Linked DNA regions of Homo sapiens. The protein of the gene in region 1 interacts with the protein of each later gene in a pairwise test. Each region holds a gene or a part of one and is shown on either strand. Other genes may lie near its edges.

The links. The genes of interacting proteins can lie anywhere in the genome.
Region 2: the proteins of GSG1 (region 1) and SYT16 interact in binary tests that used the Homo sapiens proteins (3 or more experiments, as listed by UniProt).
Region 3: the proteins of GSG1 (region 1) and FTHL17 interact in binary tests that used the Homo sapiens proteins (3 or more experiments, as listed by UniProt).

The regions. Positions count from the first base shown.
Region 1 is NC_000012.12:13,100,632-13,108,444, forward strand, and holds the start of GSG1 (germ cell-specific gene 1 protein), read right to left. Parts: upstream 3,037-7,813; 5' UTR 2,882-3,036; coding exon 2,834-2,881; intron 2,720-2,833; exon of another isoform or gene 2,637-2,719; intron 2,535-2,636; coding exon of another isoform or gene 2,454-2,534; exon of another isoform or gene 1,356-2,453; intron 1,110-1,355; exon of another isoform or gene 799-1,109; intron 1-798. UniProt on the Homo sapiens protein: May cause the redistribution of PAPOLB from the cytosol to the endoplasmic reticulum.
Region 2 is NC_000014.9:62,109,698-62,113,131, forward strand, and holds the end of SYT16 (synaptotagmin-16), read left to right. Parts: 3' UTR 1-2,853; downstream 2,854-3,434. UniProt on the Homo sapiens protein: May be involved in the trafficking and exocytosis of secretory vesicles in non-neuronal tissues. Is Ca(2+)-independent.
Region 3 is NC_000023.11:31,070,652-31,076,271, forward strand, and holds FTHL17 (ferritin heavy polypeptide-like 17), read right to left. Parts: upstream 1,391-5,620; 5' UTR 1,303-1,390; coding exon 751-1,302; 3' UTR 582-750; downstream 1-581.

The DNA of each region.
Region 1 (7,813 bases):
AACTGCAATGTTTACATCAGTGCCTGACCTTATACTCTTTCACTGATGAGGACAAAGATGGTCTTCACACGGGACATTTTCACATTTGTTTCCCAGCCCGGAAGGGAAGAGTAATGCCACCAAAATGCCCGTGCTTAGTGTTCAAAATGACTACATCACTGTAGGGCACTTAGCTCCGGGATTTATTCTCAGCTGTAACCACGTTTAAGGGGCCACATCACCTCAAATGGTCGCACAATCAAATGACTCTAGTCTTCCTAACGTAGGTCCCGAGTTTTGGGAACACTTCAATTCAGTGGGAAGGACCCTGGAAAAGCGTATCGGGGCCTCGTTCTCGTCTTTCCCTTTCCGCCTTTTAATGGAATTGTTTGAGGACTTTTGCTAATGCAGTCATTTCCAGGAGAGGAAGCCGCCTTTCTTCCAGGCCCCAAGCAGCTGGAGTGAATCAGAGGGGCAGCCACATCTGCACATCCTGTGGGGCAATCGCTCACGCGCGGGTGACGGCGCCAGCAGGCCGGCTGGGGCCGGGGGCGCTTGGGGACCGCGGGGCGGGGCGGGGGCGTAACGGGTGGGGCCTCTCGGGGGTGCCTGGGCCGCGCCATCTCCACTTCCGAGCGCGCCCTCCCACCCTGATGAGTAACGCGCCGTCTCTCCCGTTTACTACGGCGCCCGGTCGCCTAGCAGCGGGGCGCGTTGCCGCGGCGACAGGCCGGCCGTGTTTGGCATTGTTTGCGAGGCCCCGCCCCGCGGCCGCCAACCACCCATGGCTTCCTGACCGGGTCGGGCGGGGGTACCCGGGCTGTTTCTTCCTCTGGGTCTTCCTCCGTCGGTTGAGAACGGTGTCCCGGGGGCCCTCCCAGAGAGCAGGGACTGCCAGGGCAGGCCAGGGACCCGGCGAGCCGCGGAGGGCGGGGCCACATGTGTCCCGGAGCTGGGCCGGGGCGCTAGGCCACCTGAGGCGCGTCCCCTCTGCCGCCTGGCGAGGCTGCGCGGGAGGGCGGAGAGACTGGGTAGTCGGAGGGATTCCTTACACCCAGGCCGGTGGGCCAGGGCTCGGGATGTGTCGAGCTGCTGGAGTCCAAAGTCAGGCATTTCCCTGCCTCTGCCCGGTAAAGCTATGGGTCCCAGGCTCCCGTTCTAAGGGAAGGGGATGTCTGCGTCTCATTGGGAAGACCCCAGGGCGGGACTTCACCACCCAGACCCCTCAGCAGATCCGAGTTCTATTTACGACCCAATGCACGACTGCACTGAGGATTTTGGCCAAGTTACTTAACCTCCCAGAGGGTTAAATTTACCCTCAGGGGTAAATGAGGGCAAAGAGTTGTCCTTCTTAGTTCTGTGAAAATCGAAAACAGGTAGAAGAAGAGTGCCTCTAAGCAGAAACGAAGGGGAAGTGCACCTGTGCTACCAGCAGACACCTTGCTAGACCCTTCAGACATCTTCCTTAATCCTCACAACCAGCCTGAAAGGGACGTGGCATCCCCATTCTACAAGTGAGGGTTCCGATTCGGAGGGTTTGACTTGCTCAAGGCCACAAAGCTAGTAAATGGTAAAGTCAACACTGGCAATCTTTGAGGACTGTTCGCCTGACTCATCACCAGGCTGCCACTCAGTAAAAGCCAAGGCACAGTCACCTTTAACAAAATGTACAGATTGCAGGCCAGATTTATGGGACCTCCTGCAGATTGAGGCAATGGATTAAGTGTACTTTATACTTCTCAGGTACATATTAGCAACCAGACGCTCCCATATTCCCTCTGTGTCTCTCCTGGAAAACCACTGATAAAGAACAATAATAAAATTTATTCTAAGCCATGACTGGCTTTTTCTGTCATGTTCACATCCACTTCTTTGTCATCTATTCACTTGGGGCTGCTTCTGAATTAGGGAAGCTGCCTGAACCCACACTCCGATGGCTCTTCAGAACCACCAGCTCAGCTCTGCAGTCCCAGAAGTGCCTCTTAAGTTATCCTGTTCTTTCCTTTGAGATCCTAACTTCCAGCTGGTCAACAACATACCACATTGCTCCCTGTGTTGGAGTGTATGTACGTGTGTGTGTGTTTGTGTATGTGCTAGTTTGCTGGCTAATTGCAAGCTTCATTTTTCTCTCCTGAGAAAGGCAAGATATCTGAGAATGAACACCATTTGTTTTTTTAAGTAATCCTTAGAGCTGAAAGTTGGGAGGCTGGTCGTTTCTGAATGTAGGTCAAATGCTAAACAAGCCGCAACTTCTCTGCAGAGTGTGAGAGTCTTCCTGGTCTGGAAGGATCCCTGAAGATTCTGCTGGATTCTCTGAGACGAGAAAGAGCTTGACTGTGTGTTGTCCTTCCCAGTTCCAGATCAGAGCTGCCTTCCAGCAGGACCTTGGGGATGCCCCACTGTTCTCTGGCATAGAGCTTGATGTCTGCTCTTTCAGCTCACTGGGGTGACACACAGCTCTATTGTTGCCACCGCTACTGGGCCTTTACCAGGCTCCAGATTTTGGCAACGGGAATAATGCAGATGAAAGGAAAAAAGGAGAGGCATAGGGAGCCCTGGGAACAGAAAGGAGAAGGAAGATGATGAGACAAGGGAAGAAGAAATGGAAGTTTTAATGAAGGAAGATGAAAAGGTAATAGGCCAAGGTATGGACATACCAGTTTTATCTATGAAAACTGGGCTGAGTGACACATTTTCATTCCATTTTGTAGAACCCTATAGTGCATTTCCAAGCTCTTTACTGTGACCATGTGAAATACATGAAATTGATGAGTTAGTGTAACCTGTGTTACAAATCCAGCAGTAAAGATATGTGTATGAGATGTTCATGAGATTTCAAAATCACTGTACCTACCTCCTGGGTGAGGCAAACATTTTGAGTCAGTTGAGAGGGATCGCTCATTCACTCTTGCAGCGGGAAGGCAGAGAAGTTTCAGTTTATCTTCTGTTCTGTCTCAATCAGTTGGGTAGAATGAGTGTTTAGCGTGAGGATGAATCAGGTCCCCTCTTGCCAGCAGAGGGGTAAGGTGGTGTGTGGTGGATTGGAGAGGATGTCCTGAGGGCCAGACACCAGCCAGGGCGGGGTTGGGTGACCCGTGGGGTTTATTCTGTGATGTCACAACGGCAGTCAGGGGTCTCCCTGTTGCTCCCTCAGCCTCCTCCCATAAGGATTGGGGGGGGTCATGCTGGGTACCTACCAGTGGCTGGATGTCTTCTGAGGTCGTCCAGATCAGTGCTTATCTTATTGTGCATAAGATTCACCTGGGGAACTTAGTCAAGTGCAGATCCTGACTTAGTCAAGTGCAGAGTCTGGGATGGCTCTCACGTGAGTCCAGCCAGACCACACTGAGTTGTGAGACTCTAGACCAGTGCTGTCAAAGCAAAATGCAATGTGGGCAGCATATGTCATTTAAAATTTTCTGGTAGCCACATTAAAAAAAGTAAATTGGACACACATACTGTGATACAGCAATCATATGTTATACAATACTATGTTTAAAATGTAGCCCTCCCCACACAATAAAGTTGGGTTTAATGAAAAATATTTTATACTACTTTCATTTTAAAATTAAAATTTAGTGAATTCAAATTACATAAAATTAGAAATTCAGTTGCTCAGTTGCACTATCCATATCATAAGGGCTCCACAGCCACACATGGCAAGTAGCTACTGTATTGGATGGCACAACTCAAGGCCATTCCCTGAAAAGGTAACAATGTACAGAAATTACCATTCTAAAGGGCTAGTATCTGGAAACCCAGCAAACATTCACTAACATCATTTTAATGAATACATAATTAGTGTTTGGGGACTGTTAATATGGAGGCATAACTCTCGGAGACTGGAAGAGGGCCTCATCCAGGATTCCAGCTAACAGTCTGGATGGGGCCCTCTGCCCTGTGAAACCTGTCACACTCAGTCCTCCTCTGAGCTTTTGCCAGGGTTCCCCTCACTGGGATCCCTTCCTTCTCCTTGCTGCCCTGCCTAAATCTTACACAACCTCAGGGCACATGATTCCAGTCTCACTACCTTGTGGCTCTAGCCCTCCTTACTCCCCATTTCCTCTTTGCTCATACAGCATGCCTGCTTTGCTTTTGGTGTGTTAGTCTGTTTCTCTCGTGAAATTCTAAGCTGCTTGAGGACAGAATCTGGTTTTTTACTTCTATCGTGCTTAATATAGTGCCAAGGGCATAGTAGCTGCTCAAGAAATATTTATTATTTTATTTAATGACCTAAACTACCTAAGGAAGTATCTAAGAGAGAACATCGGATCTCGAAGTGCCAATAACTTCCCCAATGGAACAACATGCCTTATTTTTGGCACATCTTAAATTGATCAAGATGTCCGTTATAAGTTAATTTATAAATTTAATACAAATAACCATGAGTATTTTAAAAGACCAACACAAGTTGATATTAAAGTTTATATGGGAAAAAAATACACAAGACTAGCTAGGAAAACCCTGAAAAGGAAGAGCTCTGAGGTGGTGCTAGCCCTAATTGATATAAAGCATACTACAAAGCCTCTATGATTAAAACAACATGGCACATGTATACATATGTAACAAACCCGCACGTTGTGCACATGTACGCTAGAACTTAAAGTATATTAAAAAAAACAAAAAAACCAAAAAAAAACAATGTGGTACTGGTGCATGACTAGACAAACAGGCCAATGGAAGAGAACAGAAAGTCTAGAGATAAACACAGCTATGTATAGACTTCCAGTATAGGACAAAGGTGATATCTGTAATCACTGGGGCACAGATGATTTTTTTAAGAAATGTTGTTGGGATAAACTAGATAGCCATTTAGAAAAATATAAATTATATTTATTTAAAAATCATATACAAGAATAAACTCTAGATGGACTAGAGATCTGAATTTTAAAAATGAGATTATGGCCGGATGCTTAATCCCAGCACGTCAGGAGGCCGAGGCAGGAGGATAACTTGAGCCCAGGAGTTCAAGACCAGCCTGGGCAACACAGTGAAACCTTATTGCTACGAAAAGTACAAAAATTAGCTGGGCGAGGTTGTGAGCGCTTGTAGTCCCAGCTACTTGGGAGACCGAGGTGGGAGGATTGCTTGAGCCCGGGAAGTTGAGGCTGCAGTGAGCCATGATCCTGCCACTGAACTCCAGCCTGGGCGATGCTGGGTGACAGCGCAAGACTGCCTCAAAAAAAGAAAAAAAAAAAAAAAAGAGAGAGAGAGAGAGAGAGACATATGAATGACCCTAAATATATGAAAAAATGTTCAACTTCACATATAGTAAACATAATGCAATTTAAAACTAGAATGAAATATCACTTCTCATCCACCAGACTGACAAAATTATAAAGTTTGACAGTGCAATCTGTTGATGATGCTGTGGGGAACAGACGCTCTCACTCATTGCTAGTGGGAATCCCAAATGGTGTACCCCTTTGGTGAATTTGGCAATATCTAACACAACTGCATGTGCATCCCATCACCCAGAAATCCTACTTCTAGAAATTTACCCTGAAGATACACCTCCAACAATAGGCATGAAGCTATTCATTACAACATATTTGTAATTGTAAAATATGGAAACTACCTAAATAAGAATTGGTGGAATTAATTATGGTTCATACACACAATGAGGTACTATGCAGCTATAAAAAACAAAGCAAACAAGGGAGATTTCTATGAACTGATATGGAATGCTAAGTACATAAGAGGATATATAGTATACTATCTTTTGTGTAAAAAAGAAAAGAGGGGAAACAAAATGTACATCTATCTGCTTATTGTTACCAAACGAAGTTCAGGAAGGATAAACCAGAAAACAATAAAGTTGGTTGTTTACTGGGGGTGGGGAATGGAAATGATTCTGGAAGGAGTGACACTTCTCTGAGAAGTTTTTATGATATAGTTTTGACTTTTGGGAGCATGCTAATGTTCCACATGTTTGAAAATAAAATTATAACAAGTTGAGAAGGAAAAGAAAAGCCTGAAACCAAAAGCAAATGGAAACAAGTGACCTCAGTGGTATTTCAGATAAATACTATAACCACGCAGAAAGGGAAAAAACAAAAGAAAGAACAAATCCAAGGAACTCTTGAATACAGTGCTTGACTATCTACTGGTCAGTCTTGGGTAAAGTTGAGTGGGGGAGAATTGCAAACAACTCCTGAACTCTTTTTATTTATTTATAACTGTAAAAAATTTATTTTATTTTAGATTCAGTGGGTACATGTGCAGGCTTGTTACATGAGTATACTGTGTGATGCTGAGGTTTGGGCTGCTAATGATTTCATCACTCAAGTAGTGAACATAAGTGAACATGGCATCCGATAGATAGTTTTTCAATACCTGCTGCCCTCTCTCCCTAACCCCCTTTAGAATTCCCAGTGTTTATTGTTCCCATTTTTGTGTCCATGTGTACCCAATGTTTAGCTCCCACTTATAAATATGCTGTATTTGGTTTTCTGTTTCTGCATTAACTTGCTTAGAATAATGGCCTCCACCTGCATCCATGTTGCTGCAAAGGACATGATTTCCTTCTTGTTTATGGCTGTGTATTAATAGTATTCCAGGGTGTATATGTACCACATTTTAGGAATCTAACCCACCATTGATGGGCAGCTGGGTTGATTCTGTATGTTTGCTATTGTGAATAGTGCTGTGATAAACACACAAGTACAGGCTGAGTGAGATGGCTCACACCTGTAATCCTAGCACTTTGGGAGGCTGAGGCAGGAGGATTGCTTGAAGCCAAGAGTTCAAAACCAGCCTGGGCAGAAAAGTGAGACCCTCTCTCTGAAAAAAATAAACAAACCCCTCAAGTCAGCTGGGCGTGGTGGCCCGTGCCTGTAATCCCAGCTATATGAGAAGCTGAGGGAGGATGGCTTGAGCCCAAGAGTTTGAGGCTGCAGTGAGCTATGATCATGCCACTACATTCCAGCCTGTGTATCAGAGCAAGACTCTCTTAAAAAAAACAAAATAATACAAAACCCCAAAAAACATACAAGTGCAGGTGTCTTTTTGATAGAATGATTTATTTTCCTTTGAGTGTGTACCCAGTAATGAGATTGCTGGGTTGAATAGTATTTCTAATTTTAGTTCTTTGAGAAATTTCCAAACTGCCTTCCACAGGGGCTGAACTAATTTGCATTCCCAGCAACAGTGTATAGGCGTTCTCTTTTCTCTACAACCTTGCTAACATCTGTTATTGTTTGATTTTTTGGTAATAGCCATTCTGATTGGTGTGAGATGGTATCTCATTGTGATTTTGATTTGCATCTCTCTGATAATTAGTGATTTTGATAATTTTTTCATATGTTGGTTGGTGGCTTGTATGTTTTCTTTTAGAAGTGTCTGTTCATGCTTTTGCCCACTTTTTAATGGAATTATTTGTTTTTTTTTCTTGTTGATTTGTTTCAGTTCCTTATAGATTCTGGATATTAGGTGTTTGTCAGATGCATAGTTTGCAAATATTTTCTCCCCTTAAGTAGGTTGTCTGTTTACTCTGTTGATAGTTGCTTTTGCTGTGCAGAAGCTTTTTAGTTTAGTTAGGTCCCAACTGTCAATTTTTGTTTCTGTGGCGTTTGATTTTGAGGACTTAGCCATGAATTCTTTGCCTAGACCAATGTCTAGAAGAGTACTTCCTAGGTTTTCTAGGATTTTTATAGCTCGAGGTCTTACATTTAAGTCTTTAATCCATCTTGAGTTAATTTTTGTATATGGTGAGAAATAGGGTCTGGTTTCGTTCTTCCGCATATGGCTAGCCAGTTTCCCAGCACCACTTACTGAATAGGTTATTCTTTCCCCATTGTTTAATTTTGTTGACTTTGTTGAAGATCAGTTGGTC
Region 2 (3,434 bases), on another chromosome or scaffold:
TGACTCTGTAGTGTCTTTTGTTGAGCAATGAGTTAAATACCTGTCGATAAAAAGTGTTAATTATGTTATTACTGATTCATGATAGAAAATCACCTTCTGTCGCTAGTTTATATGACTTTACATTTACCACTCCTGCCAAGAGAAAGGAAGCTTTGTGATTGTGCCCCGTCATAGTTAATTGTACAAATCAATTAAAAATGGTATGTAAGCATCTGGCTCACACAGCAGCTCTGAATTCTGAATGAAAAGATAACCCATGCTAATGTATATGTTGCATGAACAAGTAGATGGGTGTTGGAAAGAAAACACTGATAGTCACTCTGGGTGAAGGGGGAGGCCTGGCCAATGATTTGTATCTGAGAAACATTTTGAGATTATTTATATGTCTTCTGACTGCCCTTTGCTTTGTAGCTACAGCAACTTGCAGAACCTGGCATTATTGCAGAGATGAAGGTATAGTTGTATAAAGAATATTGGATTAAAGTTGATGAGGCCTGTGTTCTGATATCAAATCTTCCACTAATGAGCTCTAAAATGAATATCAAGTCACAATTTTTTCAAGCCTTCATTGTTGCATCTATCAGATGGGAATAGTAATACTCATTTTACCTATTTTTACCAGGTGGTTGTAGGAACAGGATTCATTCATTCCTTCATTAATATAATGAACACTTTGAGACCCCACTATATAACAGGGCCATACATATGACAAGGTGATAGATGGAAAGACGTTTTGCAGAATTTTTGAAGACTTGCAATGTTTTTGAAGACTACAGGATAGTTTGTGATTTTTATATTAAGGTCGTATCAACTCTTTATGTCAATATATCAAAGTAATTGACACTTTTAGAGCTCTGCCAATCAGTGGGCCATATTCATAGAATGTCAGTAATCTGTCTGAATACAAGTTATAGTTGGTCTTTAGCTGTTCTGTCTCTGAGGAGCTAGAAATAAAATATTAGGTTCTAATTTTTTTTTGTTCAAACACTGATCATGTAACAAACTGCAAATCCATGTTTTCAGCAGGTTCGCCAACCTTTGAGTTGAATGCAGACCTTTCTTTAGAACAACCTAACTTTGAGTACAGGCAAAGTATTAAATGGAATAGCTTTTCCTCCCCTACAAAGTGGATTTGAATACAGTCCTTAGAAAAATTCTTCCCCTGCCAAAAAAGGTCCTTCAATCTCCTTTATTATTTTTCTTTTGAAGAATCAAACTTGTCCATCTCTCCCCTCCCAAGTGACTTTCCTCACTCATGTAATCATTTTCTTCATAAATGCCCTTTTACTATCCCACAGAAAAAGTAAAGATTTAAAAAATCATTTTTAAGGTACATCCAAGATTTCATAGCAATATTTTATTTGTGTTCACAGTGCAAGATAAATCTGACTTTCTCAATATTTTTGGTCTTCATATGGCATCTGAAACAGTTGTTCACATTCACACATTTATGTTTCACCATATGCATACTGTGTACAGCTCTGTTGTTCTAAAATATTTTATTGGTTTTCCTTTATATCTCAACTTTTGATGGGTGTCCTTGAAGAACTTTCATGAAAAAAATGTAAATGTGAATGATTCATTCATTTTGAACATATGTAACTATTTTAGGAGATTTTCAGGAGATTTTACCCTACATGGAGTACACTGTTCTTAGCAGGGAATGTGCTTTATATTACTATTCTACTCACAGCTGGATGCTGCAGATGTATTAACATTGTAAACATGTACTTTTTCTATTCTATGCTTACTTTAATACATTATTTATATGTGCTAGACTGTGCTGAGTTTTGGTGGTTGTCAAAGGCAGTCAGTAATTTTATAAATTTCACTTTTGTGGATAGTTAAGTATAACATGGTTTAGTATAAAATCTGGTCTTCCTCTAGATTTCTAAGTCACTAGAAGAATTTCTTGGCAAATTGATTGTTCAAGGCCAGTTTTGTTAGTTGTAAGGTGGAAGCCACCCCAATCCTCTCCCAGTGTTTCATAGGCATTTTCAGACCTGGATGCTATTATAGTTCCTCCTCTAGTTTTCCAGTAGAGAATTCGTATGTGGTCCAGAGGTTCAAGAGAGAGAGAGAAAAAATTTCTCCTCAAAAGAATTGAACCCTTACTTTAGAAACTTCTGACAATCTTCAGAACATTCCATGTGGGTGTCCTTGTGTTTCTCATAGTATGACTTATTGATTCATGGTGTCTCTTATTAAAGAAGCATGAATGTATCACTAGCTGTTACCAGAACAAACAGCTGTAGAATGTAATGACCCATCCTATTTCTAAATTTACTTCTATCAGTGGATAATTTGTGTATAGGAAAAGGTGTGGAAATTTTTTAATTGTTAAAAACTGGAATACCTTTCTACCTTTTGTAGTCTTTAAGATTTCATAATGATGGTTTTAATGTATTACTATCTTACTATTATGTATTGTGTTTAAACAAGACCAATCAGTGAAATATTGAATGTCAATACTTTTTGTTAGAAATGCCCTCTGAAAATGTTAGAAAATGTAAAACTTTACCTGTGACAAGGAATAAATTCATGATTAGAAGAATTATACTGTTTTTCTTGTGCAAATAATACTTAAGGCAGATGTTCAGTCTCACAGTGATGTTGGAAAGCATATTTTATGCAGTCTAAACACTATTTCTGTATTAGATATTTAAATGCATGAGGATAAATTCTAATTGCTTTTTGTTTAAAACAGAAACATAGAAGAAGCATTAGCCCCAGTTTGTATAAAATGTCTGCTGCAACTGAATTCATGATAGTTCATGAAAACTGAAAATCATTCCAATTTTGTAAAACTGCTGCTACTGGTTTTATCAATAAAGTTTTAGCAGATGGCTTATATGTACATGTGTGAAAATTTTTTATGTTAAAAAAAGATACAGTTTTGCAGCATCAACATGCAAATTTTATGGGCCTGAATGATACTGCTTATTTTAGTATATACAAAAACCATTAACTTCAAAACCATACCAACTGCAGACATATATTTTAGAACTATAAGCATTACATGTATGATCCATACAGTTTATTTGGTTTCAGGGTGCTGTAGGCTTTTATGGTGAACACATATACAAATCAACATATACCAGTTCAAATGCTGACTTGAAGAACATCAGGTAAGGAGCTATATAAATGTAAGGATCACCTGAATTAATTAAATTGCATCTAAAGGGGATTCTGAGAAGGCAAACTGCAAAGTGTAGGTGTTCATGTACAAAAGTGTATGTAATTCCTCATTAGAGAAGCTCTTGTCCAGAACACTTTCCCCTCTATGAATACCCAGTTCTCAAAAGTTAACAAGGCTCAGATGCAACAAGCTAGAAGTAGAGGGAGCTGAGTTATTATATTCGGACACCTACATAGCACTCAAAACATGGCTGACTTCCCCCAAACAGAAAAGCATAGAGAAATACAATTCTATA
Region 3 (5,620 bases), on another chromosome or scaffold:
CAACAATGTAAATAAAAGGACTTGGACTTGCAAAGTGCCATTTTAGTTTGTCAGCCCCTTGGCTATGGGGAAGCCAGCTTAAGGCTCCCACTACAACTGTCACCCAAAGTGAGCTTGCCAAAGAAGTACCCTGCTGTGCTGTCACCCAGAGCCCCCACTTGCTACTCAGAATCCACAAACATTAACATTGGCATATTTTAATAAACTACAAGTTTTCATGTAAAGTTGAAGACCCTTTGTTTATTTTAATCCTTGCCCAATCCCATTTCCTTCACTTCTTCCCCAGAGGCAACCACTATGATGAATTCCAGACCACGTTTTACACTTTACCGTGCCCATGCACCCACAGCCACCAGGGCCCAAGAGTGACCACCCCACCCCATCCCACCCCACATACCCTGGTAGTTTACAAAGGGAAGACTAATGTGTTTTCCAGGGGCCCATAAAATACCATTCCACTCCACCCCTGCAAATCCTGAGCTGCATGCAGATGGGGCAGGGGTGGGTGGAGAGACTGCTGGATACCTACTTTAAACCTGCATGGGGATTTGCCCTGATTCCTAAAAGGTGAGAGTTGCAGGTGTATCAAATGGACACCTTTATTGCTTTGAGAACCAGATAACTTTTTTGCTAACAATGGTAAAACTGAAAGATAAAACTGAAGAGAACGTTCTGAAAGGGCAACATGCACGCCCCGCCTAGTGGCCTGACCCAGGGAAGGGACCCCGTGGCTGTGGGGCCCATCTGGGCTCAAGTCTCTTTGACGCGGCCGCCCAGGGTGAGCTTGTCGAACAGGTACTCAGCCAGGCCGGCTTCCGGGGAACAAATCTTGCGCAGGTTGCTCACGTAGCCACCCAGCTCTTTGATGGTCTTGACTTGCTCGTGCAGGTAGTGGCTCTCCAGGAAGTGGCACAGCTGGGGGTCGCCCTTCTCCACGGCCAGCTGGTACAGATCCAGCAGGCTCTGGTTGACGTTCTTCTCCAGGTGGAAGGCGGACTCCATGGCCACGAGCCCGCTCTCCCAGCCTTGGCACTCTGGCTTCCTGATATCGTGAAGGCAGATGTGGCCACCGCGCAGGTTCTGCAGCCTCATCAGCTTCTGGGCATGCTCCATTTTGTCGTCCGACAGGCGCAGGAAGTAGCGGAAGAAGTTCTCCAGGGCCACGTCGTCCCGGTTGAAGTAGAAGGCCATAGACAGGTACAGGTAGGAGGTGTAGAGCTCCAGCGTGATGTGGCTGTTGATGGCGGCGTCGCAGTTGGTGTCGTACTTCTGGCGCACCTGCGACGGCTGGGCGGTGGCCATGGCGGGCAGCGCAAGTGCAGGCGAGCACACGGGCGAAGTCGGTGCGGTAGCGAGGGCAGCAGCTGAGGTGACAAGAATGGCGGATAGTGAAAGGCGGGTGTGCGATGAAACCGGAAGTGGGCAGTGGAAGTGGGCAGTGGCGACCGTTAGGGAGGAGCGCGCTCTGTCGGTGGGGGGAGGGGCGGCGGGGGACAGAGTTGCGGGGCAAGGGGGTGGGGGCACAAGCGCTGACTTCCGTCGGAAATCCCGGCCACTTGGCGCTGAATGTTTCAAGACCATCTTTTAAAAATAACTGCTCTAGGCCGGGCACGGTAGCTCACGCGTGTAATCCCAGCACTTTGGGAGGCCGGGGCGGGCGGATCACGAGGTCAGGACATGGAGACCAACCTGACCAACATGGTGAAACCCCGTCTCTACTAAAAATACAAAAAAAATTAGCCAGGCATGCTGGCGCGCGCACCTGTAGTCCCAGCTACTCGGGAGGCTGAGGCAGGAGAATTGCTTGAACCCAAGAGGCGGAGGTTGCAGTGAGCTGGGATTGTGCCGTTACACGCCAGCCTGGGCAACAGAGCAAGACTTGTGTCAAACAACAACAACAAACTGCACTATTGAGATACAATTCCTCTGCCATAAAATTCACCCTCTGAAACATTTCCATGGTTTTTAGTATATTCATGAAGTTGTGTAACTATCACCCCATCACCAAAAATCTAATTTCAGAACGTTTTCCTTATTCCAAAATGAAATCCCCTACCCATGAGTAGTTACTGCCCATCTCGCCTTCCTCACTGGCCCGACAACCACAAATGAAATCTCTGTTTCTAGAGATTTGCTTACTCTGGACATTTCAAATAAATCATACTATATGCGGCCTTTATATGGCCTCTTTCATTTAGCATAATGTCTTTAACTTTTGTCTTTTTTATGGCTGAATTATATTTCATTGTATGGATATACCACATTTTATTTACTCATTCATCAGTCGATGGGCATTTGAGTTGTTTCCATTTTGTGACTATTATGACTAATGCAGCTATGAGGATTTTTATAATAGACATATGTTTTCAACTCCCTTGGGTATATACCTGGGACTAGAATTGCTGGGTCATATGTTAAGACTCTGTTTAACATTTTGAGGAACTGCTAGACTGTTTTCCAAAGTCCCCTCATCATTTTACATGCCCACTAACAATGTATGAAGGTTCCAACACTGTCATTGTCTTTGTTGTTTTTCTAGTGGATGTAAAGTGGTATCTCACTGTGGTTTTGATTTGCATTTCCATAATGGCTATTGATGTTGAGCATCTTTTCATAGTCATTTGTATCTTCTTTGGAGAAAACTCTATTCAAGTCTTTTGTCCATTTTAAAATTGGGTTATTTGTACTTTTATTGCTGAGTTTTAAGAGTTCTATATATATTATGTGTGCCAGTCCTTTTTCAGATATATGATTTGCAAATATTTTCTCTCATTCTGTTTTTTTTTTCACTTTCTTAATGGTGTCCTTTGAAGCACAAAGTTCTTAATTATGTTCAATTTTTCTGTTTTTCTCTTGTCACTTGTGCTTTTAGTGTCCTATCTAAGAAACCATTGCCTAATTCAAGGTCATAAACATTTATGTCCAGGTTTTCTTTGAATAATTTTACAGTTTTAGCTTTTACATTTAAGTTTCTAACTCATTTTGAGTTAATTTTTGTATATGATATGAGGTCATTGTCCAATTTCATTCCTTTGTGTGTGGATATCCAGTTGTCCTAGCACCATTTGTTGAGAAGACCATTCTTTCTCCACTAGATGGTCTTGGCACACTTGTCAAAAATCAATTGACCATAGATGTATGGGTTTATTTCGGGACTCCCAATTCTGTTCTGTCAATCTATGTGTCTAAACTGATGCTGGCACAACACTGGCTTGATTACTATAGCTTTGTAGTAAGTTTTGAAATTGGGAAGTATAGTCATCCAACTCTGCTCTTCTGCAGAGATTGCTTTGGCTATTCTGGGTCCCTTGAATTTCCTATGAATTTTAGGATATGCTTGTCAATTTCGTTTTTTTTTTTTTTTTTTTTTTTAAAAACCAGCCTACTGGGATTTTGTTAGGGATTGCATTAAACCTGTAAGTCATTTGTGGGAATATTGGTATCTTAATATTAACTCTTCTAGTCCATAAACATGGGATGTCTTTTAATTTATTTGGGTCCAGGACGTTTAAAAATAAAGATTTTGATTTAGGCTGGGGCTCCAAATCAGAATTTCTAAGCATCTCAGGTGATGCCAGACCACATTCTGAGTAGCAATGCTCTAAGAGGGAGGAGGCCTCTATCCCTTATCAAGGTTTAGAGATAAAGAGGACACATATATTGGACTCCACAAGCAAAAATTCCTGTTCTCACATCACAGACAATGCTTGTGCTATTTATTATACTAGATGTAGTTTTTTGTGGGAAAGGGAAGAGACCTTTCTCCTATCACAAAAAATTGTGAAAGACTTTAAAATCAGCAAAAACAATTTCCTGGATGTGGTTTTTAGAGTACCTTTCTGGGTTATCTCCATCTTTCATTGACTTAGAGTTATTTTCTAACTCTTCAGATTGTAGAAAACTAATAATAATGCAAACAATTCTTGTCCACAGAAATGCAAATAAATGTCTGGTGAAATGCAATTGATTTTTGACTTATTTTGCATCTATTTGTACATTCCTTATTTCAATATTCCTTATTCCTACATATGTATGGCTCTTTGAATTCTCCTTTGAGCCATTTGTAACATCTTACTAGTTTCCTCATTAATTAATAAGTTAAATAAAATGTTTCATGCACATATTTTATATTTATATGAGAGTCATGATTTTACTTTTTTCCTCGTAATTATTCTTTAGCACTCCCCAGGTCCACCCCCACCCGACCAGGAACACAACTGAAGCCCAGGGAAGTTGACTTGGTAAAGTGAGCACTTTTATGGGTTGCTCACCTGAGATATGATTCCAGAAAATTACTTAGGACCTAAAGGCATAGAATTCCTGACTGTGGAATTCTATATGGACTATGGAAAGATAGCCTCTCTGAGGAGAAGGAGGCAGGGAGTAGTCCAGGGCTGTAGGAGACCAACGAAAACTAGCAGAGGAAGTGGATATCCAGGGAGCAGGCCACAGAGGTACCTCACCAGCAGAACACTGTAGCCACAGTGGGGCTGAGGCTGGCCTGATGCAAACTGGGGAGGATAGAGAAGTAGGGGTGACCAGTAAAGGTCTGTAGAAAACTGGAACCAGCTGAGAACCAGGGAAGTGATGAGAGTTTCCAGGCAGAGAATGTAGTTAACAGAGATTTGAGGGGTGGAAGGTTGACTGACTCAGATGGGAGTTTGACAGGCTGAGGTTCATGGTCTGAGTAAAGTTAACCCTGGGAAAGAGGTAGGAACCTGAGCTTTTGGAGCCAGGATGAAGGATCCTCTCATCAGCACTTTTGTGCTCCCTGAATCATACCCCTGGAAGGGGTGTTCGGATCCACAGATACTAAGAGTGTGGAGTATCCAGGACTGGGCCATGGGCTTCATCTTCCAGAGAAGTTTCCTTCCAGCTGGTGATCAGATGTAGGGACGCTCTAATGCATTCTTCTTGGCCCTACTATGGGACAACTTTTTAGCACAAAGGCCGTAGGACAATGGTTGCTCCTATTTGGTTGGACACTACTGAGACGTCCAACACTCACACCCATACCATATTCTAAAGAAGAAAATGCTCTTTCCAGTCTCTAATTCCTTGCTGTTCTGATTTTGGGGGAAAAAAGAAGAATCACTGTCTTGAGGAGCAAAGGAAAACCCTCAGAACTTAGACATGCCCATTGTATGTAAGTTGATGGCTGATATTCGTCAGTTAAATAGGAATTGTTTCTAAGGTTATAACTTTTCATTTCTATTCAGTGTGCTGAATAATCTCCATCTACCTCTCTAAGACTACTCTCTGCTTTTCTCCATCTTACTTGGCACACTGGGAGGGGGAGGTTGACCTGTATGTACTGCACCCCTAGGTCCCTTGTGCTGTCTGGCTTCTAGTTGCATTCAGTCAACGGGAGGCACTGGCAGGATATGGGAGGGCAGGGGAGGAGTGAAGTTGAGGTATTTTTTCTCTTGGCTCCATCTCTTCAGGGCAGATAATTAAGAGGCGCCTTTATTTCCCTTTTATACATTTTGCTCCCTGGATGCAGTAGGACCATTCTCAGGATAGGCCTTCTGCAAACATTACTACAAAGAGCAGGTATTCTTTGGCTCAAGTTTAATGCACAGCCTAAGAAATTCATGGGGTCCCAGAAACCAGTGTGTAG